Homo sapiens: one gene and its partners. The protein of the gene in region 1 binds, or shares a complex with, the protein of each later gene. Each region holds a gene or a part of one and is shown in the gene's direction. Other genes may lie near its edges. The genes, in order: NUDT21, CPSF7 and CPSF6.

What was found.
Region 2: the proteins of NUDT21 (region 1) and CPSF7 are in contact, whole or in part, in a crystal structure (PDB 3N9U), measured with the Homo sapiens proteins. Residues at the interface, in NP_008937.1 of Homo sapiens: Arg68, Asn152, Glu154, Pro156, Tyr158, Tyr160, Pro162, Ala163, His164, Ile165, Thr166, Lys167; in NP_001129512.1 of Homo sapiens: Trp91, Trp92, Thr93, Thr94, Asp95, Gln96, Glu112, Lys114, Phe115, Glu117, Asn118, Arg119, Ala120, Asn121, Gly122, Gln123, Ser124.
Region 3: the proteins of NUDT21 (region 1) and CPSF6 are in contact, whole or in part, in a crystal structure (PDB 3P5T), measured with the Homo sapiens proteins. Residues at the interface, in NP_008937.1 of Homo sapiens: Pro151, Asn152, Glu154, Pro156, Tyr158, Tyr160, Pro162, Ala163, His164, Ile165, Thr166, Lys167; in NP_008938.2 of Homo sapiens: Trp90, Trp91, Thr92, Thr93, Asp94, Glu95, Lys113, Phe114, Glu116, Asn117, Arg118, Ala119, Asn120, Gly121, Gln122, Ser123.

Annotation. Positions count from the first base shown.
Region 1 is NC_000016.10:56,428,633-56,434,332, reverse strand, and holds the end of NUDT21 (cleavage and polyadenylation specificity factor subunit 5), read left to right. Parts: coding exon 1-2; intron 3-1,599; coding exon 1,600-1,621; 3' UTR 1,622-5,200; downstream 5,201-5,700. UniProt on the Homo sapiens protein: Component of the cleavage factor Im (CFIm) complex that functions as an activator of the pre-mRNA 3'-end cleavage and polyadenylation processing required for the maturation of pre-mRNA into functional mRNAs.
Region 2 is NC_000011.10:61,425,003-61,437,321, reverse strand, and holds the start of CPSF7 (cleavage and polyadenylation specificity factor subunit 7), read left to right. Parts: upstream 1-7,346; 5' UTR 7,347-7,408; exon of another isoform or gene 7,409-7,491; coding exon of another isoform or gene 7,492-7,565; intron 7,566-8,031; coding exon of another isoform or gene 8,032-8,086; coding exon 8,087-8,140; intron 8,141-12,319. Other genes in the region: SDHAF2 (succinate dehydrogenase assembly factor 2, mitochondrial), read right to left, coding at 7,140-7,175.
Region 3 is NC_000012.12:69,267,875-69,277,160, forward strand, and holds the end of CPSF6 (cleavage and polyadenylation specificity factor subunit 6), read left to right. Parts: intron 1-1,637; 3' UTR 1,638-6,484; downstream 6,485-9,286. UniProt on the Homo sapiens protein: Component of the cleavage factor Im (CFIm) complex that functions as an activator of the pre-mRNA 3'-end cleavage and polyadenylation processing required for the maturation of pre-mRNA into functional mRNAs.

The DNA of each region.
Region 1 (5,700 bases):
AGGTACAGAAAGTTGAACATTTTTTGGTTCATCCATATTAACTGTCAAATTTAAAATATTCTGAGCCACTTGGGAAGGTATAGTTCATGAATTTTGGTCTTTAAGGAAACTAAGAAAGTAGATAGACTCTTAGATCATGTGCAAGCCATAGATTAATTGTGACTAATACCATCCCCAGACTCTTAAGTTTCGGCATGACATTCTGGTATTTGTGCAACTGCTCTTCCCTAATTCTGATATTCTCAAGAGTTAAGGTTGATGTCTTTATTCAAAAAAGAGATGGTTAAATAGCAGTCAACAGTGTGTAAATATGAGCGGAGTTGTCTGTATTAAAATGTGGCAAATTGGCTGGATGTAGTGGCTCATGCCTGTAATCCCAGCACTTTGGGAGGCTGAGGCGGGGGTGTATCACCAGGTCAGGAGTTCGAGACCAGTCTGGCCAAGATGGTGAAACCCCATCTCTACTAAAAATACAAAAATTAGTGAGGCGTGGTGGCCAGCGCTTTTAATCCCAGCTACTTGGGAGGCTGAGGCAGAGAATTGCTTGAACCCGGGAGGCAGAGGTTGCAATGAACTGAGATCACGCTACTGCACTCCAGCCTGGGCGACAGAGTGAGACTCCATCTAAAAAAAAGAAAAAAAAGGTGGCAAATCGAATATCTTGGTGTAATATATTCGTTTTCCTTTTTTGAAACTTACTATATTTTGGCCCAAATTGAGGCTTGTGGGATTAGGTCCTGAACTTTTACGTGGGGTTTGAATCTTTAGGCAGTTAGAGTGATAAGAAATGCAGTTTTTTAAAAGTTGACTTGTACTGGTTGAGGTCTCTATTAGAGCCAGCCATATATAGGAATTGCAGAATAACATGGTGGTTATGAAAGTAGATTCTGCAGTCAGTGTTTTGGATTTGAAGCCCAACCTCAGTACTTGCTGGCAGTGTGACCTTGAACAAACTATTATACCTATTTGACTGTTTCTTCTTCTGTAAATGGGGATAGTAGTCTCTACTTCAGAGGATTATGAGGACCAAGTGAAATAATGCATATAAAATGCTTACAACAGTGCCAGTAATCTGGTACATACTTAATAAATGTTAGTGAAATTGGCCTTTTGTGAAAGCTTATTGAGTATGAAATTGCTCTTTCTACTTCGTCACTAATCAAACCTTATCTTTTGCCACTCCACTTTGGCCTCCTGATAGGTTACAAGTTGAAATGCATATGGGGGGAAAAGAGTCATATTATTTATTCAAACACCTACTTGTCAAGTGCAGGAACTGTGCTGAGTAGTCAGAGTATAAGGACATGTAGAAACTTTTCCTGCCTTAAAGAACTTATTAGTGGATAATTAATCAAATTTATAGTCTTAATTTTTTTTATTATAAGTATTCAACAAGTGTTTTTAGTGTGTAAGATGTGACCAGTGAGGGAAAATTGGTGTAGAAAATGCCAAACGTGGTAAAAAGGCATTCGAAGGGGAAAAAAAGAAAATGCCAGACATGCTAAGGGAGGGCAGAAACATCCAGATAAATTTATTTATCTAATATGGAAAGTAGTATGTACTGTCTTTAATAAAGGTATTGTTCTTTTTAAAATTCAGGTTCAATTTTATTTACAACTGAATTCCTGCGCAGTGGAGAAGTAAAAGAAGCCGCTTGTCTCTGTGAGCACAGCTATATACAGTGTAGAATAAATGTGGTAGAAAAGTTTTTTTGGTTTTATCTCTTTTGCGATCCCTAAATTGCCACCTTTCTATTGTTTGAATAGTAAAATTAATATGAAGAACTAGATAGTGGTGTAAACAAATGTGATAATGTTTATTTACTTTCGGTTCTGCTCATACTTTTTTGTACAACATTAAAGAAAATGGACTTTTTTTATTTTAATTTCTCATTAAACTTCTAAAATTCTTATAGGTGAGGATCATTTTTCCCCCCACCTTAGGATGGTGAATGTTGCAACACAATGACAGGTTTAAGTCAGTCAAGTTTATTGGACCCTTGCTTTGATACCATTCTTGGGCACATACTCCAAGATTGTATTAGATTTTTGTGATGAAGAGCTTCCATTACTTCTGAAAACTATATTTATCTGAGTGAGTCCAAGGTGCAACTCCTAAATGAATTGTGTTGCAGAGAACTCCCAGTATAATTCACTGACCAGTACATTTTATAACCATCCAGGCCTTGGTTTGCAAGCAACAGACCTTAAACATACAGGAAACTATTAAAATTGGCTCGATCAGTAGTCATAGGAATTGGTATAAGAAGAGACTCATTTAGAGCTCAGAGTTTTCTTCACATAATGGGGGTATTAATTATTTGTGCTGTTGCGAAATTATGTGTCTTATTCTTAAAGCCATGGTAAAAATAGGGATCTGTGAAGGAAATTTCTAAAATTGGATGTATTAGGTTTTGAACTCTGAGATTGCACAAATATTCAATTAACTTGAAGTTGTGTACATAGAGAAGAAAATTTGGTTTTAGCAAATGACAGAGCCTTCAAAAATATTTTTGGAATAATGTGAATCAACCGAAAACTGGGGGCAAGGCAGAGGACAGGTTTTCTCAGGTTAAGAGAAAAACGAAATTTTAAAAACTTTAAAAAATACTGATAAATTCGGATCAAATTTGGGGGAATAAAAAATATTAGAGCAAAGGAGTTTGCTGGTTGTGTCATTATTTAATGATCAAAGTATAGCATGTATGCCTTATTACAGACTTGTTGACTATAGGCTTAATGTAAAAAGGAATCTTGCCAGATGTAGCTACTTAAGGAAAAAAGGGTTTTTAATAGAAATGAACTTTTGATTAGTATGGTGCCAGTCACAGGGCTATTTTCCTGAATATTGGGTGATGTCAAAGGTATATGATACTTGAGGAAATCAGGCCAAGTGTAGCTGAGCAATTAATAAACACTCAAGTTTTTTTAGTTGGGGTCATGTCAAACCCTCACATGGTGGTTAAGTAGTGACTAACTGTGCATGTCCTTCATGGTAGGTGAGCACCAGTCTCCATGATCAAAAATGCCCCAGTTTCCTTTGAAAAAGCCACTAGTTCTGTGAATTGTCCTTTTCCCTCCTGCCCCTAACAGTCCTACCCCTCTAGCCTACATTAGCATATTTCTCATGTAATGTATTTTGCTGGTAAGCTCATCCATTAGCTGCGTCCTTCAGCTATTCCTTTAGATTGGAGGAAGTGGATATGAAGATGGATTGATTCAGCTCACCTTCCATGATTGCTTTTGAGGGAAAAGCTACAGTGGCCACATTTCAGATGTTCACTTTTGCAATTTGTGGAGGGTGGAGAGAGGTAGACTTTTGTTGTGTGTTTTATAAAGTACTCTCAGTAAGGAGTGTTTGAGTTGAAGAGTCATCTGATTCGAGGCCACTCATGTTCTTTGTAACTTAAACTTTGACCAAGAAATTCTTCACTTCTCACTTCTTCACTTCTTCCCAATATACAGTAAGTACGTGAGCCAGTCATCCATACACTAAGGCCTAGTTGAGAAAAACCTTTGATTCAGGATGGCTGGGTTACTAACCTTGAAATGTAAGAGATCTGGTTTTGAATGTAAAAGTTGCAACACACAAACGGAAGTCTTAAAAACTTTTTGCTCTGGTCAGTTACAGGTGGATCCCCAATAATCTGTTTTTGGTTTTCTGATGGAAATAATAGAATTAGGGGAAATCAAATCTGGTTGGTAGGTGTCTACAGTATTAGAAGAGGGTATAAGGGCACTGTTTAACACTAAGTTCTAATACTTCCAGAAACTGTGCATTCCAGATCTACATACTAAATGCTCTTATCATTTTGAAATGGGCTCTTGATTAATAGACCCATATTTTTTAGTGGCTTCTATGTTGTATATTTGTCTAAAATGAAAGCTCTTTTGCGTTCTAAAACTACAATATATGTCATCTTATTTTCCCTGAGTATCCAAGTATAGTGCAGATTCTATGTAAAACTACTAAATGACACTGGAATATGTTTAGTAGATTAGGGGGAAAAACTATAAAGGTTTATACAATTGTTTGTAGTTACATTTAGGATGGACTTATCCCTTTGGAGAAGAGTGAAGTTTGTTTTTTCGCCATGTGATGAAGACCACTGTGATTTTTTAAAAAAGTAGATAATACTTAAAATGGCGTAATAATTCTGCACTTGAATTTGTACTGTTAACAGCACATTTGGAAGATTTTAAAACTTTTTATTGTCTTATAAATAGCATTCACTTATTATTTTGGATATTTAAGGGTTCCATTAAGTTAACACTGTATTTGGACAAAGTGTGACCAAATTAGCCAGTCTGTTTTCTTCCATGTTTAATTAGAAGTGAGAGGTAGAAGTACTTCAAATTCAACAGGCCAGCAAGCAATCGGCTTAAAATTCCCTTTCTTAAATGTTGTGCTCTTATGTTCTCGGCTTTTTAATGACTTTATTTTTACAGTACTTGTTCAGTCACTTGAGATGAAATGCTTGGGGTAGCTTTTCCATCCTCAAACTTAATGTTTTTACTAGTTCATAGTGTTTGGAACAGTATATGCCAATCACTGAGACTGCATCAGAGTTTGCAATTTTGTATGTTTCATTGCCAAAGAAGGCTTAGTGGTTGTTGACTGTAGTATAAGTCAGCTTTCTGTAGCATAAGATTTGATTTTCCCATACTTACTTCACTTGTTATACATCACTGATTATTTGGGTTAAACTGGACTCATTTCAAGCAGTTTGCTTTTGTTCAAATCGTGATGAGAAACCTAATACTGTAATTTGATTTGAGCCATAAAACACATTTTAATATTAGCTTGTATTATAGTTATTAAGCTTGTTTTTGTGGAAAAAAACTTACTAAAACCTAGGTAACTCTAGATTAGGCCAGTTCAGGTGTATTTTGTATCTTAGTAATGGATCATATCGTAAAAATAGAGATAAGTTGGGAAGATATATTGATTATGCTGTTCTGTTGAGGGAAAGGTCATGTATTTAGAAATTTAAACTTTTGGTTATTGTGTTCACATCATAGTATTCAAGCATCATTTATAGTTTGGTTTTGAGAACTTTTCTGGTATTACGTTTATGGCAAATGTATAAAAGAAACAAGTTTTGGTTATATTTTTATATTTGTAAAGTAAGTTTGGTTAAAGTGATCACTGTTCTTTTTTTATTTTATTGTCATTTCAATAAAAAATATTTGAAAGAGAATGACTCTGTGATTGTTTTGGGATAGTAGTCCTGTATGTGTGGCTGCTGATCCTACTGTGCTAGTAGAAATCTTGCATGGTTCGTCACTGTGAGTGGCCGAGGGCCTTTAGGTAAGAGACAGCTTAGCATAATAGCAAGGGCCTGATGGCCTGGGTCACTGATGTTGCCCTCTCCTTGTGCCCCACACACTCCCTCCTCCCATTGTGTGTTAGCAGTGTTTCAGTTTCCTGAGGTGTGAAAGGGTCACTAGATTTGGAACATGAAGGCCACAAGTTAGAAGTTGCTACACAGTTGTGTTAACTGTGTGTAGTCCATATCATTGGGGACTGAGTCCGAGTTTCCTCATCTGTAAAGGGAGGGTTGACTCCTTTAGTTTTTTTTCTCAAACTTGCCTGGAATTCATAATGTTCTATGACACACACCATACCTGCTGCATATGTAATACTGTGTAATTCAATGTTATCTTAAATAGAAAGTTTACCCAAAATACGGGAATATAT
Region 2 (12,319 bases), on another chromosome or scaffold:
AGCTACTCAGGAGGCTGAAGTGGGAAGATCATCTGAGCCTGGGAAGGTCAACGCTGCAGTGAGCTGTGATCGTACCACTGCATTCCAGCCTGGGCAACGGACCCTATCCCCCTGAAAAAAGAAAAGAAATTATGCTGATATTGTCCCCACTTTATAGCCAAGGAAACAGAGGCTCAGGAAGGTTCAATAACTCACCCAAAATCATCCAAATAGTAACTGCAATTAGAATTAAAACACAGTCCTAACTGCAAATGTGTCCCTAACCAGTGCCTTTCCAGAAACTATCCCAGCAGAAATAATTTTTCCTTCCTTTGCACTCCCTTAAAATTCTTACAGTGTGGTTTATACTCTACTCACTCACCTGTGTCAAATCCTGAGCACACAGAGACAGCATGATCCCTAATCCCCCAAAGGCTCCCAATCCAGAGAAGTTGACAACTTATCAAGATATGATGTCAAGGTGGTGACCTCAGCAAGAGGTGAAGATGGTGGAGTAGGAAACCCCAGATCCTCCTTCCCCGATGGAGACACTGAGCCAACAGCAACAAACAAACCAATTCCCTGTGAGAAATCCAGAAACCAGTAAGAGGCTCCTGCTCCCCAGGTGAGCACAAAACCAGCTGCATCGAATCCAGCAGAAAAATTTGTAGCACTCATTTGCCATAGTCTCTTCCCTCCCTGCTCAAGCATGATCATGAGATAACCCCCAGCTCCTAGCTTCTACCTGAGACAGAAAGAGAAGACTGAAAAGTATGTATAATGTTCGGACTTTTGGGGGGATCAGGTTTCTGTTTTGTTTGAATCTAAGTGCTAACAGAAAAGGGCAGCAGGTTGAGGGAGAACAAAGAACCATGGAGAACAAAGGTGACAGTTTAGACTGGCAAGCACTCACTCCCTCATCACTCATCCTTGGCTCAGTGCAGAACAAGCAGGAGAAAACTCCCACCTCCCAGCTTCTCCCTAGGGAGGGAAACAGGTGCAGTATGCATCCAACATTCTAGCTTTTTGGGGCTCTCTGGGGGACTGGTTTCTGTCTCTAAGCACTTGAAAGGATCTAGCACACTCTAAATGCCTGGGTGGCCTGCTGCTGATCCAGAGGATCCCTGAAACTGCAGAGAAAGGCCAATACAGCCCAGTGGCCTCTCCCAGGGTTGAGGGGAGTGGAGTGTGCATCTAATATTCTGACTTTTTTTTTTTTTGAGACGGAGTTTCGCTCTTGTTGCCCAGGCTAGAGTGCAATGGCGCGATCTCGGCTCACCACAACCTCCGCCTCCCAGGATCAAGCAATTCTCCTGCTTCAGCCTCCCGAGTAGCTGGGATTACAGGCATGCCCCACCACGCCCGTCTGATTTTGTATTTTTAGTAGAGACAGGGTTTCTCTATGTTGGTCAGGCTGGTCTCGAACTCCCGACCTCAGGTGATCTGCCTACCTTGGCCTCCCAAAGTGCTGGGATTACAGGCGTGAGCCACCACACCCAGTCGTAACATTCTGTCCTTTGGGGAAGCTACCAGAGGGACTGGTTTCTGTCTTGCCCAGCTTGGGGCACTGATGGGACATGGCATACTCTAAAAGTCTGGAGGCCACCGACAGCTGGGAGACTTGTAGCAGCTCCAGAGAAACTGCAGTATCATACGCAGACACTAGAGGGAGCAAGAGATTATGGGCTCCTGAAAAAGGAAACCGGCAAATCCCTCTAAATGGGAATTTACATCCGCAAGTCCAGAAAAGACACATCCTCAGTAAAGGATTGAGAGGCCCTTGGAATCTCTATCCATGCTGACTAGTGAAGGCCAATCACCAGTACAAAGACCAGGAGAGACAGATGATTTTTCAAATGTAGAAATCACCAGTACAAGTTACCAAGCACATGAATAAAGAGGAAAACATGGTCCTATTAAAGGAACGAAATACATCTCCAGAAACTAACCTTAAAGAAACAGAAGTATATGAATCACCTATAAAGAATTCAAACTAGCCATAATAAAGATGTTCAATGAGCTTTGGAACATTGAGAACTTGAACATTGAGCTTGAACAAAATGAGAAAACCAAAAAAAAGACAGAAAACATTAAAAAATAACCAAATGAAAATTTTGGAGCTGAAGAATACAGTAACTGAATTGAAAAATTCACTAGAGGAGGCCAGGCACGGTGGCTCATGTCTATAATCTTAGCACTTTGGGAGGCTGAGGCTGGAGGATCGCTTGAGCTCAGGAGTTCGAGAACCAGCCTGGGCAACACAGTGAGACCCCGTCTCTAAAAAATAAAAATACATAAAAATTAAAAAATTAGGCCCGGCGTGGTGGCTCATGCCTGTAATCCCAGCACTTTGGGAGGCCAAGGCGAGTGGATCAAGAGGTCAGGAGATCAAGACCACCCTGGCTAACAATGGTGAAACCCCGTCTCTACTAAAAATACAAAACATTAGCCGGGCATAGTGGCGGGCGCCTGTAGTCCCAGCTACCTGGGAGGCCTGAGGCAGAAGAATGGCGTGAACCCAGGTGGCGGAGCTTGCAGTGAGCTGAGATCGTGCCACTGCACTCCAGCCTGGGCAACAGAGCGAGACTCCGTCTCAAAAAAAAAAAAAAAATTAAAAAATTAAAATAAATTAAAAAATTCACTAGAGAAAATCAATAGTAGACCTGATCAAGCAGCAGAAAGAGTCAGCAAACTCAAAGACTGGTCATTTGAAATTAGTCAGGGTTTTTTCTAAAAAAAAAAAAAAAAAAAGGAATGAGAAGGAGTGAAGAAAGCCTTAGGGACTCCATCAAGGAGATCAATATACACATTATGAGAGTCGTATAAGAGAAAGACAGGGGCAGAAAGCTTATTAGAAGACATAATTGGCTGGTCTCAGTGGCTAATGCCTGTAATCCCAGCACTTTGGGAGGCTGAGGTGAACGGATCACCTGAGGTAAGGAGTTCAAGACCAGCCTGGCCAACATGGCGAAACCGTCTCTACTAAAAGTACAAAAAGTAGCCAAGCATGGTGGCGCGTGCCTGTAATCCCAGCTACTGGGGAGTCTGAGGCAGGAGAATTGCTTGAACCCAGGAGGCAGAGGTTGCAGTGAGCTGAGATTGTGCCATCGCACTCGTCTCAGTGATAGAGTGAGACTCCATCTCAAAAAAAAAGACATAATGGCTAAAAACCCCCAAAGTTGGGGAAAGAAGTGGACATCCAGATTCAAGCCTAACAGATCTCAATTAACATGAACCCAAAGAAGTCCATACTGCGACGTATTTTAATCAAACTGTCAAAAGTCAGAAAAAGCTGGGTGCAGTGGCATGACCCTATAGTCCCAGCTACCTGGGAGGCCGAGGTGGGAGGATTGCTTGAACCCAAGAGTTAAAGTACAACCTGAGCAACAAAGCAAGATCCTATGTCTTTAAAAAGTCACAAAAGAGACACCAAGGATGTGCATGCACAGAGAAATGTGAGGACACAGTGAAAAGGTGGCCATCTGCAAGGCAAGGAGTGAGGCCTCGAAAGAAACCAAACCTGCCAACACCTTGCTCTTGGACTTCTAGCCTCCAGGACTATGAGAAAATTAATTTCTGTTCTTCAAACCACACAGGTTATAGCAGCCCTAGTAAACTAATACAGCATGCGATGAAAATTCAGATTCCCAAGCCCCACCATAAACATTCTGGATGAGAATCTCTAGGACTGGGCCCTGACGAATGAATTTTTAACAACCCTCTAAGAGATTCTGATGCAGACTGAAGGCAGGGATTCCTACTTTCTATACTAAAATAACATGATTGAGTAATTTCTACAGAAATGAATGCGGATGGGGAGGACTATCCTCATCAGTACAAGGAAATTGTTCTAATAATTGGGATGTCTTATTATTTTAGCCAAATTTCACCCATTTTTTTCTGTTAGTATCAAGGCAGCATTCCATAAAAGAAACAATAATGGTTGTCACATAGTTCCAGGGAATTGTGTGATACTGGTATGAGTTGTGTTAAATTATCACTGGAGGCCGGGTGCGGTGGCTCACGCCTGTAATCCCAACACTTTGGGAGGCTGAGGTGCGCGGATCACGAGGTCAGGAGATGGAGACCATCCTGGCTAACACAGTGAAACCCCATCTCTACTAAAAATACAAAACATTAGCCAGGCATGGTGGCGGGCGCCTGTAGTCTCAGCTACCCGGGAGGCTGAGGCAGGATAATCGCTTGAACCCAGGAGATGGAGGTTGCAGTGAGCCAAGATCGCGCCACTGCACTCCAGCCTGGCAACAGAGCGAGACTCCGTCTCAAAAAAAAAAAAAAATTAAATTAAAAAAATATATAGAGAGAGACAAGTACAGAATACTATAATACTGTAACTGTGGTATGTAAGTCACTTTTAATTTTGGTATAGAAATTAAAGACAAAGGTATAAAAACAACTATAAAAATTTGTTAATGGAGACAATATAAAAAGATGTAATTTGTGACATCCACAACATACAAGGGGGTCATAAAAGAGCAGAGTTTTTGTATGCAATGGAAATTAAGTTATCAAAACAGATTGTTATGTTTTATATAAGCCACATGGTAACCACAAAGAAATACCTGTGTAAGACACACAAGGAAATGAGAAATTCGTTTCTCAAAGTATGTCACTACAAAAAAAAAAAAGTCAACGAAATATAAAGGATGACAAGAGTGGAAAAGAGGAGCAAAAAGGTTGTAAGACAGAGAACAGTTTACAAAACGGCAACAGCAAGCACAGTTGGCCCTCCGTATCTGTGGGTTCCACACCTGTAAATTCAACCAACTGCACACTCAACCAACTGTGGATCAAAAATATTCAAAAGAAATAAATAATACAACAATTAAAAAACAACTAAGATATAGTATAACAAGCATATACATAGCCTTGACATTGTTTTCGGTATTATAAGTAATCTAGAAATAATTTAAAGGATATGGAAGTATGTGTGTAGATTATATGCAAATACTATGCCATTTTATATAAGAGACTGAGCTTCTGCAGAGTTTGATATCCACAGCGGATCCTACAACAGTCATCCCATGGATACAAAGGGATGATTGTACTTCCCTATTTTATTTATTTTTTGAGACAAGGTCTCACTTCCAATGCCCAGGCTGGAGTGCTGTTGCAAAATCAAGGCTCACCGCAGCCTTGACTTCTCAGACGCACTCCCGCCTCAGCCTCTCAAGTAGCTGGGACTACAGGTGTGTACTACCACACCTGACTAATTTTTTTTAGTAGAAAAGGGGTTTTGCCATGTTGCCCAGGCTGGTCTCGAACTCCAGGACTCACACGATCCACCCACCTCGGCCACTATTTACTTTAGGTATAAATGGATTAAACTCCAGGCCTGGCGCGGTGGCTCACGCCTGTAATCCCAGCACTTTGGGAGGCTGAGGCGGGCAGATCACGAGGTCAGGAGATCGAGACCATCCTGGCTAACACGGTGAAATCTCGTCTCTACTAAAAATACAAAAAATTAGCCAGGCGTGGTGGGGGGCGCCTGTAGTCCCAGCTACTCCTAAACCAGGAGATTGGCGTGAACCCAGGAGGTGGAGCTTGCAGTGAGTCGAGATCATGCCACTGCACTCCAACCTGGGCGACAGAGCGAGACTCTGTCTCAAGAAAATAACATAACATAACATAACCTCCCCAACCAAAAGACATGAAGTGGCTGAATATAATGAATTAAAAAAAAGATTCAACTATATGCCGCACAAGAGACATTTTATTAAAATCTGGAAATCAATGGCAAAAGAAAAGGTGGAAAATTCACAAATATGTGGAAATTAAACAACACACTCTTGAACAATCAATGAGTCAAAGAAGACATCAAAAGGAAAATTAGAAAATATCTTGAGACACGCCGGGAATGGTGGATCACACCAGTAATCCCAGCACTTTTTGGAAAGCTGAGGCAGGAGGATCACTTGAGGCCAGGAGTTTGAGACCAGCCTGGGCAACATAGTGAGAACCTGTCTCTACGAAAAAAAGAAAAAAGAAGGGAAACAACAGGCCGGGCGCGGTGGCTCACGCCTGTAATCTCAGCACTTTGGGAGGCCGAGAAGGACGGATCACCTTAAGTCTGGAGTTCGAGACCTGCCTGGCCAACAAGGTGAAACCCCATCTCTACAAAAATACAAAAATTAGCCAGGCATGATGGCGATGCCTGTAATCCCAGCTACCTGGGAGGCTGAGGCGGAAGAATCGCTTGAACCCGGTAGGTGGAGGTTGCAGTGAGCCAAGTTCGTGCCATTGCACTCCAGCCTGGGCGACAAGAGCAAAACTCCGTCTCAAAAAAAAAAAAGGAAAACAACAAAAAACAAACAAAAAGGAAATATCCTGAGACAAACTAAAACCCAACATATACAAAATTATGAGATGCGACAAAAGCTGTACTAAGAAGGAAGTTTATAGTGTAAACGCCTACATCAAAAAAGAATAAAGATCGAGTCCCTGGGTCTGCAGGAAAAAAAAAAAAGAATAAAGATAGGGATGGGGGTAGGAGGGGAAGATAGAGGCAAAGTTAGTTACTTTATAACAGCAGGCTAGGAAAAAAGAATAATAAGTTCCAGTGTTCTATTACATATTAGAGTGACTACAGCTAATAACACTGTACTGTATATGTCAAGATGCTAGAAAAAGATCTTGAAAAGTTATTACCGTAAATAAATGATAAAGATTTGAGGTGATGGACATGCTAACTACGCTGATTTGATTATTCGATGTACACATGTATTAAAACATTATACTGTACCCCCATAAACACGTACAATTATATGTCAATTATAAACAAACAAAAAGCTGAAGATACTATGTGAAACCACGAAAAGCATTAAAGACTAAAGAACGGGGAGAAGGGGAGCCCAGGGAAGTTGGGCTAATCCCGCCTGGGACGTAGGTGAGAGGCGAATTGGGTCTTGGACGATGACTGATCGTTTAAGCAGATATTTCCAGACCGGCACACAGTAGGCTCACCAAAGAATGGAAGCGACCTTTATTTCCTGAGTTGCAGGATCGGCCTCTCCCTGGGCCTGCCCTTGCCCTGCGCTATCGGGCAGACGAACTCTCCCCAAGATAGAGACCACAGAGGAAGACAAAGGGTAATCCCCGCTGCCGCCCGCCCCGGACGCTAGAACGTTCTCTCTCCTCACCAGCGACGAAGTCGAGAACACTGTAGACACCGCCATTTTCCCCACCTGCACCGGAAACCGGCTGCGCGGGCACTTCCGGGAACTCCTAGCCGCCCGGCCAGCCGACCACGGCAGCCACGGAGGAGCTGAGCCGGAAGGTGCGTCCCTGCGCATGCCGGAAGTGGCGGTGCGTGTGACGCCGGCGGCGGGGGGGGCGGGACCTGGGGCGGAGAGCGGTTCGCGCGCTTCGGGCCTAGTCCGGACTCGCCGCCGCCGCCGCCATATTCCCGGTAACGGGGGCGCGCGGTCGGGGGCAGGTTGGGCCGGAAGAGGGGTCCGGGCCGGCACTGAGGCGGGAAGGGGGTCGGTTGAGATGGGACGGCCGGAGTCTGCGGGCGGAGGGAGTCGCGGGCCTTTTGAGGGAGGAGGCAGAGCGCGCCGGGCCGGGTTTGTCGGGAGGGAGCGGGGCGGGCCTAGCTGGGGGCGAAGAGTAGGCCTGGGTTGGGGGCAGAGGCGGCTGGAGCTGCTTGACACCTGGGGGCTCTGGCCGGAGCCGCCTTGGGGGCTAGGCAGGTGCAGCGGATAGGGGCTGCGGGCTTCGCCGCGGTCATTCTTCGCAACGCCGTCCTAGGGCCACTAGGACCCGAGGGTGGGACTTTTCCGTCGCGCCATAGGCAGCTGCGGCGCAGACGCGGCGCTACCCGGGTCGGGCCCGAGGGTGATGGGCAGCGACCCCCGGCGGCCTGGGAGAGCGGTGGGCGGCGCGAGGCCGGGGGCGGGGCGGAGCGGGTGGGGCCGAGCTGGGGCCGCCAGGATGCTGCGTCTCTGGAGATGGGAGGTTAGCAATCATTACCCTCTTCCCAGCCCAGGACCCTCGTGCCTTCTAATTCTTGCATTTTTCCGAATCCCGCAGTGGCATCTTCCTTACTTTGTCCATCCTCCGGACTCGCGATCTTCCTTCCGGAGCCATGTCAGAAGGAGTGGACTTGATTGATATATATGCTGACGAGGAGTTCAACCAGGTGAGGTGTCATCAGGAGCTTTGGGATTTTCCTTGATCATCTGAGGAATCATTTTCAGCAAACTGGCAGTGGTTTCAAGCTGTACCAGTCCTAGGCTTGAACACGCGTCTATCCGGTCTAAAATTTTTCTCCTGCAGAAACTTTAAAGACTACACTCCATTCCTCTTTATGTTAATTTGAAGCTCCAGGCTTAATTTTAAAGGCTTTGATTTAAGAGCAAATAAAAAGCAGGTGTAATAGAATGGTGAATCAACCTGTGGAATTTACTCCCCAGGAAGCCAAAGGTGGGTGTCAGACTAACCACACTTAAAAATCAAAAGTACATTTGCTACGGTATTCATGAGGACAGTGTTGATACCGGTTCCTTTACATTCTCAACCTGCAGCTGGAGAAGTGTAGTCCCCTCCATCGTGACAGTGCAAAAGCAAAGTAGAAAAGATGACTTTAACATTTAGTTTCAACTCCATTCCAATTAAGTTTTACTTCCTTTTATAAGTAGGTTGACTCCAGTCATGAGAAGTCCACAGGCATTTTGGTATAATAAATTGTATTGGTTACCTTTAGTCTTTCTAGAGGGAATAAAAGAGTAAAGACGTTAGACAAACCAGTTAGAAAACTGATAATAGACCCATGCACATACCCTCAGTTGGATTTGTTTTTATTGTACCAGGGAACATTATACAGAAATTTATCTAGAGCTGGGCAAGGTGGCTCTTGACTGTAATCTCAGCTGCTCTGGAGCCTGAGATGGGAAGATTACTTAAGACCAGAAGTTCAATACCAGCCAGGGCAACATACCAAGACCCAGTCTACAAAAATGTAAAAAAAAACAACAACGAGATATGGTGGCTTGTGCCTGTAGTCCCATCTACTCTGGAGAGTGAGGCAAGAGGTACTCCCTGAGCCCAGGAATTCAAGGCTGCAGTGAGCCATGATTGGGCCGCTGCACTCTATCCTGGGCAACAGAACAAGACCCTGACTCTTAAAAACACAAGAAAAATTCTCTCAAAGAAATAATCTTCCATGCAGTTAAGTTTTTCAGTCTTGAGGTCAATTCTCAAGAATGTTCCAAAATTTCTATTGAAAACGTACTAATATCTTGCCTGGGTTATTTTCAGCACCATTCTATGTAAGTAAGCTGGCTCTTCCCATTTGCATCTTCCAGTGGGTACACATAAGGACCTGGTAAGAGCATGTATTGAATGGGTTAGAAAGGGAAAGTTCCCTGGTTTGACCCTGACTTTGATATGAGGCAACAGAAGAGGCGGATACATGCCATTTATTTTTCACTTGGCATAAGTTTACATGAAAATCTATTTTTTGATGTATTATGGTTTTATAACATGGAAATTATAAACCATACACAAAAGCAGAATAATGTAATGACCTTGTACCCATTATACAGCTTCACCAATTATACTTTTTAATGGCAGGTTTCTTGTCTCTGTTGTGGTTAACTGTGGTCCTTTAAATATAGCTGCTGATTATCTTAAATAGATGAATTTTCCTTTTTTTTTTTTTTTTTTCTTGAGACAGAGTCTCTCTCTGTCACCCAGGCTGGAGTGCAGTGGCGCGATCTCGGCTCACTGCAACCTCTGCCTCCCAGGTTAAAGTGATTCTCCTGCCTCAGCCTCCTGAGTAGCTGGGACTACAGGCGTGGGTCACCTCACCTGGCTAATTTTTGTAATTTTAGTAGAGACGGGGTTTCACCATGTTGGCCAGGTTGGTCTCGAATGCCTGACCTTGTGATCCGCCCGCCTTAGCCTCCCAAAGTTGGGATTACAGGCGTGAGCCACCGTGCATGGCGAAAAAATTTTTTAGTTTTAAATAAGTCCAATAATTATGGATAAAAGAGAAAAGTTCTAGATGTTAATTTAGTTACAAAATCATTGTTTTCCTGAGTTTTCCATATTCATTTGAATCAGACTTTTAATACCTTAAAAAAAAAAACACACAGTCTTGCTGTGTTGCCTAGGCTGGTCTCTCAACTCCTGAGCTCAAGCGATTCTCCCACTTCAGCCTCCCAAACTGTTGGGATTATAGGTGTGAGCCACTCTGCCCAGTTCAGACTTTTTGCAGATTATGTTTTTCCCCCACCAAGATAACAAGAGCGGTCCTTAGTTCTTCTCTTTTTTTTTTTTTTTTTTTTTTTTTTGAGACAGAGTCTCTCTTTGTCGCCAGGCTGGAGAGCAGTGGCACCATCTTGGCTCGCTGCAACCTCCTTTTCCCAGGTTCAAATGATTCTCCTGCCTCAGCCTCCTGAGTAGATGGGACTACAGGCGCGCGCACCGCCATGCCCAGCTAATTTTTGTATTTTTAGTAGAGACGGGGTTTCACCATGTTGGCCAGGATGGTCTCAATCTCTTGACCTTGTGATCTGCCCACCTCGGCCTCCCAAAGTGCTGGGATTACAGGCGTGAGCCGCCGTACCCAGCCACCTTTGTTATTAATGAAAAGCTTTTCCCCTTCTAATTTCTTATCTGTGGATTGATAATAGTGCCATTCATTTCACTTTGAGAAATACGCAGAACTCATTGTCCAGTGGTCACTGCTTTGTTAGAGTATAAGTTATTGGCCTCAATAGTTTGTTCTCTGGTCTCCTCAGTTAAAAAGGACTTTTTTATGGGTCTAAGACAGGCTAAAGGTAGTATGTGGACTTTAATAGATACATATATCCAACGGGCAATATTTGACACTAGGCAAGCTGAAGAAAGTGTGAATTTTGAATATCTTATGTTTTGTGGAAGGTGAGGGATGAGTGCTTCCCCCCCACACACATATCAATTAGTTATTTTTGACAAAGTTAGTGTTAGTGTCATCTGGAAGCTACAGAAATTATTTAAAAAACAAAAAAACAAAAAAACTTTGGCTAGAATTGTTAGAAGCTGGCTTAGTCTGAAGGCACCCAGTACAAATTGTGTTTTAGAATGTTTTAAGAATGTTACTGATTTCGCCCCAAGCTGGCCCATGCACAGGAAGCCCTTCATGTGCACTTTGCTCCTCAAGGAAAATTAATATTTTTCCTAGATGGAACCCTATGGTGCTTATTCCCTGATCTCTTAGAGCATTTGCTGCAAAAGCCTGTTTTTGCCAGAGCTACTTTATTCCTGTAACACAGGGAGTCCTGGGATTCACATTGGCTCTCTTGGGCCAGGGAGAACTCTGGAAAGGTGACTGAGATCAGTTGCTCTGCTGGGAGTTTTGGCTTTTCATACTGAGACAGGCTTTGCACAGTGTCCAGTTCTCTTCCTTATGTCCATCAATAAGTATTTATTTATTGAGCTACTTGTGTTTGCTAAGCACTGTGCCAGGACTAGTGAGGTAAAAGGAAAAAAAAGTGGGTCCCTGTACTCAAAACAGATTCCACTCCTGGTGGGTAGGGGTGGTGGACAACGACAATGTACAGTGAAGGACAAGGAGGGTGTGAAGTGGGAACTGTGGAAATGGTCATTATAAAGCCAAAATTTTTGATTAAGCCTTGGTTACAATTAAAAGAAACAATGGTATCAAGTTGGTTGCTCTGAGAAAAATAAATCCTAGGCTAGTTACTTCCCTCAGTGGGATATGAGGAAGAAGAGGGTGGAGGTTAGGAACACTGAGCAGACAAGTGGAGAAGATCTTATTTAAATTGAAAATCACACATGTTCTCTTTTGTTTACAGGGAAGCAGGAAGTTTCATGAGACAGTCACAGTTCTTTCTGTGCCATTAAACACAAAATTCTTTGAGATAGTTATTCAGTATTAAATATATGTTTCATGTTTAATCTCCCTGGAATGAAACTTTGAACATCAGTGCATGTAAAATGTACTTTTCACTTAATTTGTAGAATTTGATTTTACTTTAATCTATTACTGCATAAATCCGCTGAGAAAAATCTCCGGCCCTTAACTGTGTTTCTGTCTTACTAGCTGAACAAGTAAAATGAATTGTGATGCTGGGGGATTAAAATCCAAACAATTTGATACCTTGTTTCTTCAGTAGAACCCTCAACAGACCTGCCCTGTGCAGTTCCCACCAGCTTCTTTGAACTGAGGCTCTGTGGCCCAGAGAGACCATTTAAATCTTGTGATAATTTTGTATTCATTCAATCCTTTTGTTTCTAAAAGTGGTAGCCATACCAAGATTCTCCAGGATCTAGTCTATCCTATTCTTAAGGGATCTTAAAACAGTGGATTGGT
Region 3 (9,286 bases), on another chromosome or scaffold:
TATATAAAAATAGTATAATTCTCCACTGGAGTGATAATGACACAAAGATGCAGTGTATGTGATATGTTTTATGGAAGAGTTGAATATTTTTGTTTTGCTATGACTTTAAATAGTTTTTCCCTCTTAATGACTTTTTATCCCTTCCAGCGCAACAGAAAATTTAGGGAGATAGCATTCTTTTGCAGTTAGATTTATTAATTTCCCAGTAATTATTATTTCAGGTTAGAACATATGCCTTGTCTCTCTCTAATACATAAACCTGTTTTTTAATAGTGTAGTGCAGATAATAAAAATAAAACATTTGAAAGCTGCCATTTTGTATTTTTTCCCCATTAAATAGTTTCACTAAATAGCTTCATCAACATAAGATGAAGATGCAATAAAAGATAACAATAGTAATGGCTGAAGTTATCTGAAAGATACAGGCATATAGAAACTATATATATAAAAGAGAAGTCTGGATTGTATTTTTTTTTCTTTTGCAGTTTTAAAATTTTAAGTTATTACTGCTAGGCAGTGTGAATGCATATATGTACTGATGCTCTTAAGATACAACCTAGGAAAGGACATAATAGAAAAATTTATAGCAGTGGCAGAAGTAACTCTTAATTGTAGAGCAAAAAGTATTTTTCAGTTATTTTTATTTCAAAATATCACTAAACTGTGCCCTATGAACATGTTCAAACTGAAAAAAAATTTTAAAAAACCTTCTGCCCTCTTGACTCTTAAATCACTTTATTATTGAAGTGGTTTCTTGTCATTTATACTTTCATTACCGACTGTTTCAGTGGTTACTTATATCCAAGTTAATTGAATGTTTCTTGTGAACCTCTACCTGAAGTTTGCATATATATGTATTCTTTAAATTTTAGTTTATCAACTTTATTCTATTTTTTTTCTTTTATGTGAGTTTTAAATGAACTTTATCATTGTAGATTCCCACTTAGCTTGTTTTGGTTAGTTTATAATACTACGTTAGGTATTTCTATATAGGTGGAATAGACTAAAAGTAAAGTAAATGTTTTAAATTTGTATTACGTCTAAAGATTTGTACGTGGATGTCATTAATTTAAATGTCCATACTCTATTTATAAATCTTACTTACAAATTTTGTAACATGGAACACCATTTGATTTATAATACTTGCAGAAGTTCCTGTATGCTGTTAAATAAATTAATTTGTAAAATAATTTTGCATTTTATATTTAGTTCAGCATTTAATTGTTAAATGAGTTTATAGACTTGATATGTGGGTGAATGAAAAATATTTACATAAAAATCATCCAAGCATTTTCCATTTATTTTTGTAGTATGCATATTTTAGAAAATGACTTATGAATGTTTCCATCATCACAGAAACAGTAGCTGCTATGTTTTCATTACTGCTTCAGTCATTAAATTTATAAGGCAATAATATTTAAGAAGAATGAAATCAGAATGTCTCAGTTTAATCATCAGGTAAATTGGAACATTTCACCACCACAAAGGCAGCTACTGTTTCAGTTAATTCTTATTTTGTGTTAGAATACATAACAGTGAAGTAGATGCACGACTTGTGTATGTATAGTTAAGCCAGCGTTTTTCTGTGTATTTTGGGGAATAGCAAAATCTACATCACAAATTTTGACACATTACAGCTGAAGGAAGAGGATCACCTTCCAAGACAAAACAGTCTTCATGGGGGAAAAATGACGCTTGTCCAGCAGTTTGCTTCTTGTGATTGAACTGAACCTGTAAGGATTCATGGATAAAATGAACAGGAATAGATCTGAATAAAGCAAATCTGCATAAATGGTAACCAGTAGCTCTACTTTTATTTTTTATGTTGCTTAACTGTTTTATTTGAAGGAAACCTGTGTGATTTAAAAAGTTATAGCTTTTGCAACTTTATTACTGGTTATATACATTTGGCCATTATGATGTGCAAGCAATTGGAAAAAAAGTCAAGTAAATGCTTGTTTTTGTAGTAGTTTGTTCTTGTTAAAAATGTTTATATGATAATGTCTGTAAACAGCATCACTTTGATTACAATAGATGTAGTGTTGTAATAAACTGTTTAATGGGGCTGATGTGTAAAGCTGTTCAAGTTATTTGATGTTTACACCTCAGGGAAAGTCTTGTGTTCAGCAATATCTAAAGATAATGTTACTATGACAACATTTTTACTGTCCTTTAAAGCATTGCAATAGCGTTTTTGGATATGCCTCAATCTAATCTTGCGTTCAGTGAATTAAACATAGTAATTAAGTGTCTTTTGCCCTTGATTTTGATATTAGAATAGGTGATTACATGGATATTTAATATTTCTATATTCTGCTTTTCTAGCTGTTTTTACCTAGTTAGCTTGTGACTTTGCTGAATGGTATGTAAACTTGTAAAAATAGAGATTTGACAGACATAGCAATCTAGTCAATGTGTAAGGGGTCAAAAAAACAGAGGTTTTAACACATAAGTAAAAACCCGTACATATTTGATGTGTAATGCAGGTTAATTACAACACAGATGTACCGAAACACTTAATTGTGAACCGCTAACATTGAAGAAATTTTGACAATTCCGATTTGATGCTGCAATTACTTGCTGTTTTTATTGATCTTATGGTTTATTTCTTAAGCCATAGTCAGTGTAAATACAGCCCTGCAGCAGGTAAATGTGAGTAAAGAGAGCCTTATATTTTCCAATTGGTATAAATTTTTGAAGGATGTGATGTTCATTAACATTCGGTTGTATTCCCCAGTATTTGTAATGGGAAATTACAGATAAACCGTGTCTGCACAGTTTAAGGAATACTATGTATATTCATGCACCGTATTGATTCATGCTATAGTTACTTAATCAAAGATTTTTTTCAAACCTGCCTTACATATAGGCCCACTTTAAAAGCACCTGACTAGCATGTGTTCTTGATTGCAAAATTGGCAGAGGCAGGGTGTCAACTTGATTAGGTGTTTTTATGGGAATGTAATTTGAAATCACTACTTCAGAAATTTGACTTAAAATTCTTGAGCACGTTAATATGTTTTTAAGATCTGATTATCTTTGAGAGATCTTCTGTTAATACACATTGGTTGTTAAAGAGTACCCAAATTCTAGGACAATGCTTAAAGTGTTAAAATACCCTAGATACTGTGTTATGTGCAACTGTAGAAACCCTCCAGAAATTTCCACTGCTGTTCTTCACTTTCATCTTGTCTGCTATCAAACCACTTCTGACAAAATTAGCTGTTTTGAATTACCCATATCACTGCCAGTTTTATTTTAAAATATTTTGTGTTTGAAGTATCTGTGCATGGGATCGTTGATGTTTATCAGAACTGTTCACTTTCAGAAATGATTTTTTAAAGCATTTTGTTGAAAATGCGGTTGCTTTTTTAACATTATTTTAGAGTTGTATCAAAATTTTCCTGTTTTCTGTATATTGTTGTGTCATTTCTTGGCTTTTTAATATTTTGACTACAATGCCCTAATGCGAAGAAGTATGGACATATAAATATTACAAGAGAAATTAGTTAATAGTAAAGGGTTAAAAGGTAAGTAAAATGTCCATGAAAATAAAATTTTCTTTGAACAGTTTAAAAATGGAATCACAAAAATCTAACTGCACTTGAAATGAAACTGGAAATTTTATACTAATTAAATCCTTTATTTACCTTTTCATATTTTATCAATGGAACCTTTTAATTGCTCCTTCTATATCACTCTTCTCCTTGCTTGGCTGATCTCATTACATGACTTTCGTTACAGACAGTGTGAGTGTACTAGATTTGTTTGCTGCTAATCCGTTATTTTAAGTGTTGTCAGAAGGAAATAACTTCTTGGTTTGACCAAGTAATTTTGCAAAGTCCTTCTCTACCTGATAACACGTGAATGTATAGCAGTAAAGGTGAAAATTGCAGGCCTTGTTTTGTTCTTCATACCCCCTTCAGTTGTTTATGGGTTAATGTTATTTGAAAACTCTTCCTTTTTTTAATGTGTAAAAACAATCCAAAGAGATAAATCCTTGCATAGACACCAAAAACAGTGTCTCAGAGACCTTTTCATTTTTTCCTTAGTTAATAACTGTAGTGGATGTGAAAACAAACGAGTTGAATTTTAAAACATAGCATTTATTAGTGCTATACAGTCACATTCCTTTCAGCCAGTAGTAAAGTTAAACAGATGAGTGATACAGTACCTGAATGGTACTGCTTCTGAGGCAACACTTTGGATTGAAAGTGCTGCTTTTGGTTAAAGGAACTATGTTGTGGAAAGCATATTCCAGTGTAAATTTGCAGATGTGTGTTTTTTTTTTTTGTCACTTTTCATAAGGTTTGGAGTAAGTTGCAGTGGCTTTTGATCATAGTTTAGCCCATTTAATGGTCCTTTTACCTAGAATGTTCTTAAGCAGTTAATGACAATTTGGAATACACAGATAACTTGTAGCTTAAGATACTATTTTCATTTAATTCTCCTGTGGAGAATATTGCTTTATTTTTTACTAGTTTCAGGTCAGTTATTAAAATAAACATGGAGGTTTTAATGAATGTTGTATAATATTTTATAGTGAAGGAAAATTGTGGAAAGGGCAAAGACTTTCTCTTTCCCTTATGTATTTAACTGTGCCAATCTAAATACATACTGTTTTATACAATGAGATGCATTACAAGACTTTTCTGTTGGAGTGCTCTCGACATTTTGGTTTTCATACCTGAATGATCATTGCATTTTCTGTATTTTCTAAAATGGCTCCAATTTTGTGTTTTAAGCTTCAGCTTAAGAGGAAGTTTATGTTCTAATTCTTGACTGAGAATACAGTATTGAGATTCTCTGTTTTACAGATAACAACTGGTTTTTATTACTCATTAAGTTCATTTGCATCCCGTAGCCCTCTGTAAATGTTTCCCCTAGTTGTATGTACGTAAATGCACGCTTATCCAGTGTATATTAGACATTTTTGTGCTAAAATATATTAAGTGGGATTTTTGTAGCAAAGCATTCTATTTTTCTGTTCTTACAGTGTGTGTGTGTGTGTGTGTGTGTGTGTATGCGTTTTTTTAACCTTAACTTCAGTTTAAACACTGGTGTATTTATTTTTTTAAGCAACTTGACTCTTAGAAGCCTTAGACTGATTTTTTCAATAAATATTCAACCAAAAATTATAAATTTATTAAGATGTGGCCTTACATATGGCATTCCTTGTGTTCGTAATGTGAGATTTTTGATTTAGATAAATCAAGATTCAGGATTAAAGTTTCATTGTAAGTTGAAATAGAAAATGTATTAAAATGTCTAGGCTTCTGGGAGGAAGTTCTTATACTCTTCTTTCTTGGCATTAGAAAGAAGCAATATGAATTTTTGTGAATATTCTAAATATTCAGGCAACACTGTTCAGATTGATTTAGGTTTGTCTTAACCAATGTTCTTTTTTTAGAATTTCAGGTTGTGGCATTCACTGAGTATGCAGCTACTATGGTTTTTGTATGGGACGTATAAATACTTGATTATATACGACAGATTTTAATGTCTTTAAAGACTTCCTGCTGTATTAACATATTGTAATGGAGTCTTTTAAATACTAGGTTGAATTTAATTGAAGTCACACACATCTTGAAGTGGTAACTGCATAGTAAATACTACCAAGAGTTTTTTTCACGTGGGAGTATCCTAAAACTCTGCCATGGGTGTAAATGTTTTACATTAATTTCATAATTGGACAGACCCTGCATTTAGCGAAAACATTTTGTTTTGAAAGTGTGTTCTTTTTGTCGCACTGTTACTGCGTAACACTTCTCAACATTCTGTAAGTTAAATTATTTTAAAATAACTATGGTGAATTCATGTTTATTTTTTTACTTTGAAAATTGTAGTACTCAGGTGGTATTTAATGGGAAAGGATCCTTTGGGTATAAATCATAATGTATTTTAAGGAATGCATCTATAACATTGATAACTTTAGCCTTAAAAAAAAGGTCTATTATTCCTTCCTCTGCATCCCATGGTATATTAGCAAAGTAGTTTACAGCCCTGTACAGCCTTACAAAGTTGTTTTACAATTTTTAATGGAAAGCCCTTAACAACAACAACAAAAAATTGTATCATTTTACCAATATCCACGAATTACTGATCACAGTTTGTAAATAATTTGTTTAATATCAGAAGGCCAAAGAAAGTCTTAAAATTTTAGCTATTGACTCTATGGTGACTTCACAATAAGATTTCTGTGCAAAAAGGTAAGGTGATAATTGATCTAATAGACTTTTTTTTTTTTTTTTTTGCTGTCCATGAGAATTAGACTTCATATTAGCTTCAATTAAAAAGCTCATTCCATTTTATTAAAATGTTTGTAATTGCAATTTTGTGTTTAATGTTTACTTTGTCTTTCCTTTCTTTAGCATTTAGGTGACTGTTCGGCAGTTTGATATATGGCCATTGTCGGCCTTAAACTGCACTAGTAACAAGCATGGTATTTATCTTGTATTGAAAATAAAACAAACTTTTGATAAGACTTTGCAGTTTGTCTTTTTTGTTTAATTTGTTATTTGGTAACCATTGTGTATGGTTTTAAGTAGTTAATGTTTATTGGCAATATGCAGTATAGCAGAAATTGGACTGTTGTCTGTATTCTATCTTTAAGCCAGATAGTGGTGGTTTTCTTGTGTATTGACATTTTGGTGCTCTTTAAAGCGACTGATAATTGGGCTAAAATTAGGATTAAGAGGCCTGACAGATTTCCAGGCTGTTACATGGTTTTTAAATGGAAGATTCAGAAAGCATTTGTCTAGTTTTAGAGGATCATTAACCTTACTAGACTTAAGTAAAAATGTTTGTAGCAAAAATATTTTACTGGTTAGCTTGGAAACATTATGGGGTACTTTTGAAACAGTAACAGACTTCAGTTTCAGTGATTTCAGTAGATATTTCTGTGCCAGGTATTAATATCAGGCCTCAGATTTCTTACCTGCAAGCTTCAGAGTATTAAAGGTAACAGTTCTAAACAAGTGAATATGAACATGAGAAATAATACTACCATCACTGGGATCCCTTTCCATGCCTCCACTAAAATTGTGGTTCAGATTTTTGTTAGATTTCCTGTTACTGTTTGTTGTATGTTTCCATTGATCAATCCCTATTTGTGTTGAATTAGTTGAGACTCTCGTCCCTACCCTGTGAGGTCATTTAACTTTAAGAGAAGATCATTAGGAATATTTTTTGGCCAGATGCCACACTACATATGACTCAGTTCAAGACCTAATTTAGTGAAAGAGAGAAGCTTTTTTTTTACAAAAGATTTATGGACAGACTTTTCCCAGTCTTCCTAGTTTTGTTTCAGAGCCATTACCATGAAACAATAATTATTAGAAATGATTTCCAATGATGTTGTTGGTCTTTTTCTCCCATTTATAGTTCATTAACAGTTCTTGGATTTTCGTGTGGTACATCAGTTCTGATAAACTATTGTCAGTTCCAGATAAATGATATATACTTTACCTTTCAAAAATCTATATTCATTTTATAGAAAAACTTTAAAAAATGAAATTTACTACTTTAATGTTATACTGAGATCTGTAGGAAAAAAATGGTGAATGGGAAAGGGAAGTACCTTTTAGGCAGAGACTTGCAAAAAGGGCTTTTGGCAAGAGGAGCATGCTAGTAGGAACTGAAAGAATGCCAGTTTGGCTGAAGCAGGGAGTGAAGAACATAGCCTATGTGTGGAGCTCAAGCAGTTGGCAAGGCTAGGCTCTCCGGAGCTTGTAGGTCACATTAAAGATTGTCCTAAGAGTCATGTGGAATCATTGAATTGTGTGAAGTGTCATAATCAACATTTCAAAAAGCTTCTTGGCTGCAGATTAAATTGATAAAAGAATAGATAAAAGAGAAACACCTCTTCCTGTCAGGAGAGAAGATAAGGGTAGATAAAAATAGAAGTTTGTGGGCTGTAGGTGTGTGGTAGAAATTTTAAGATGTCATATTTAGTGACTTATGTTTTCTTTGAAATAGAAATTGAGGGCATTGTGGTGTGGGCATGGCTTAGTTTAGAAGTAACAGTGTTTATCTGTGAGATTGTCAGGGTTTGCTATCTAAGATAAGGCTCCCATTTTTATGGTGGCAGTCCATCTAGTAACACATTCATCCCCTGGGAGAGGGTAGATGGATCAAGCTATGGGACGGAGAAGGCAGTAATTGTCTTCATCAGTTTTCACTTTAACGGTTGTCAACCCAGCTGAAGAACACAATCACCGATGCTGTCCTGTTGTTTTTTAGGGGATTGCTATTAACATTTTATTTTTTGAGACAGTCTCGCTCTCTCACCCAAGCTGGAGTGCAGTGGCGCATTCTTGGCTCACTGCAACCTGTGCCTTCCAGGTTCAAGTGATTCTTCAGCCTCAGCATCCCGAGTAGCTGAGACTATAGGTGTGAGCCATCACACCCGGCCAATTTTTTTTTATTATTTTTATTTATTTATTTATTTATTTATTTTTTGTAGTTTTAGTAGAGACGGTTTTTCACCACGTTGGCCAAGCTGGTCTCGAACTTCTGGGCTCAAGTGATGAGTCTGGCTTTGCCTCCCAAAGTGCTAGGATTACAGGCGTGAGCCACTGTGCCTGGTCAACCATCAACATTTTTTAAAAATTGTTTTTGTACCTATTGCTTCATTAGTTTCTTAATTATCCTATAAGACAGTTAGTATTCTTTTTTTGTTTTTCTTTTTTTGAGACAAGATCTTGCTGTCATTCAGGCTGCAGCGCAGTAGTGTGATCATGGCTCACTGCAGCCTACCCCGGGCTCCTGAGTAGCTGGGATCACAGGTGCATGCCACCATGCCTGGCTAACTTTTTTATATTTTTGGTAGGCATGGGGTTTTGCCATATTGTCCAGGCTGGTCTCAAACTCTTGGGGTCAAGCAATCTTCCTGCCTTGGCCTCCCAAAGTGTTGGGATTATAGGCATGAGCCACCACACCTGGCCAGTGTTCTACTTTTAAAAGGGAGGTAATGGGCTCTGAAAGGTTATGACTAGCAGAATATAGTGAGTAGAGGTTAGAATGATTTTATGATTCTAAATTTTCAGTTATTTACTGAATGTCATGATACTGAGCCACCACCCCTGTAAGATTTTAAGCTTTACTGATACCCAAACTAACCATTTAGGAACATACTACTTTAAATTTTTCATTTGCACAAATGTTGAGTACCTACTCTACAAGATACTGTGTTAGATACTTTTGTGTAAGATAGGCCATAGCATTTTATTGTGGTATCTTGTCTCATGTAAATACAGGTTCTACCTACACAATTACTATAGCTGTC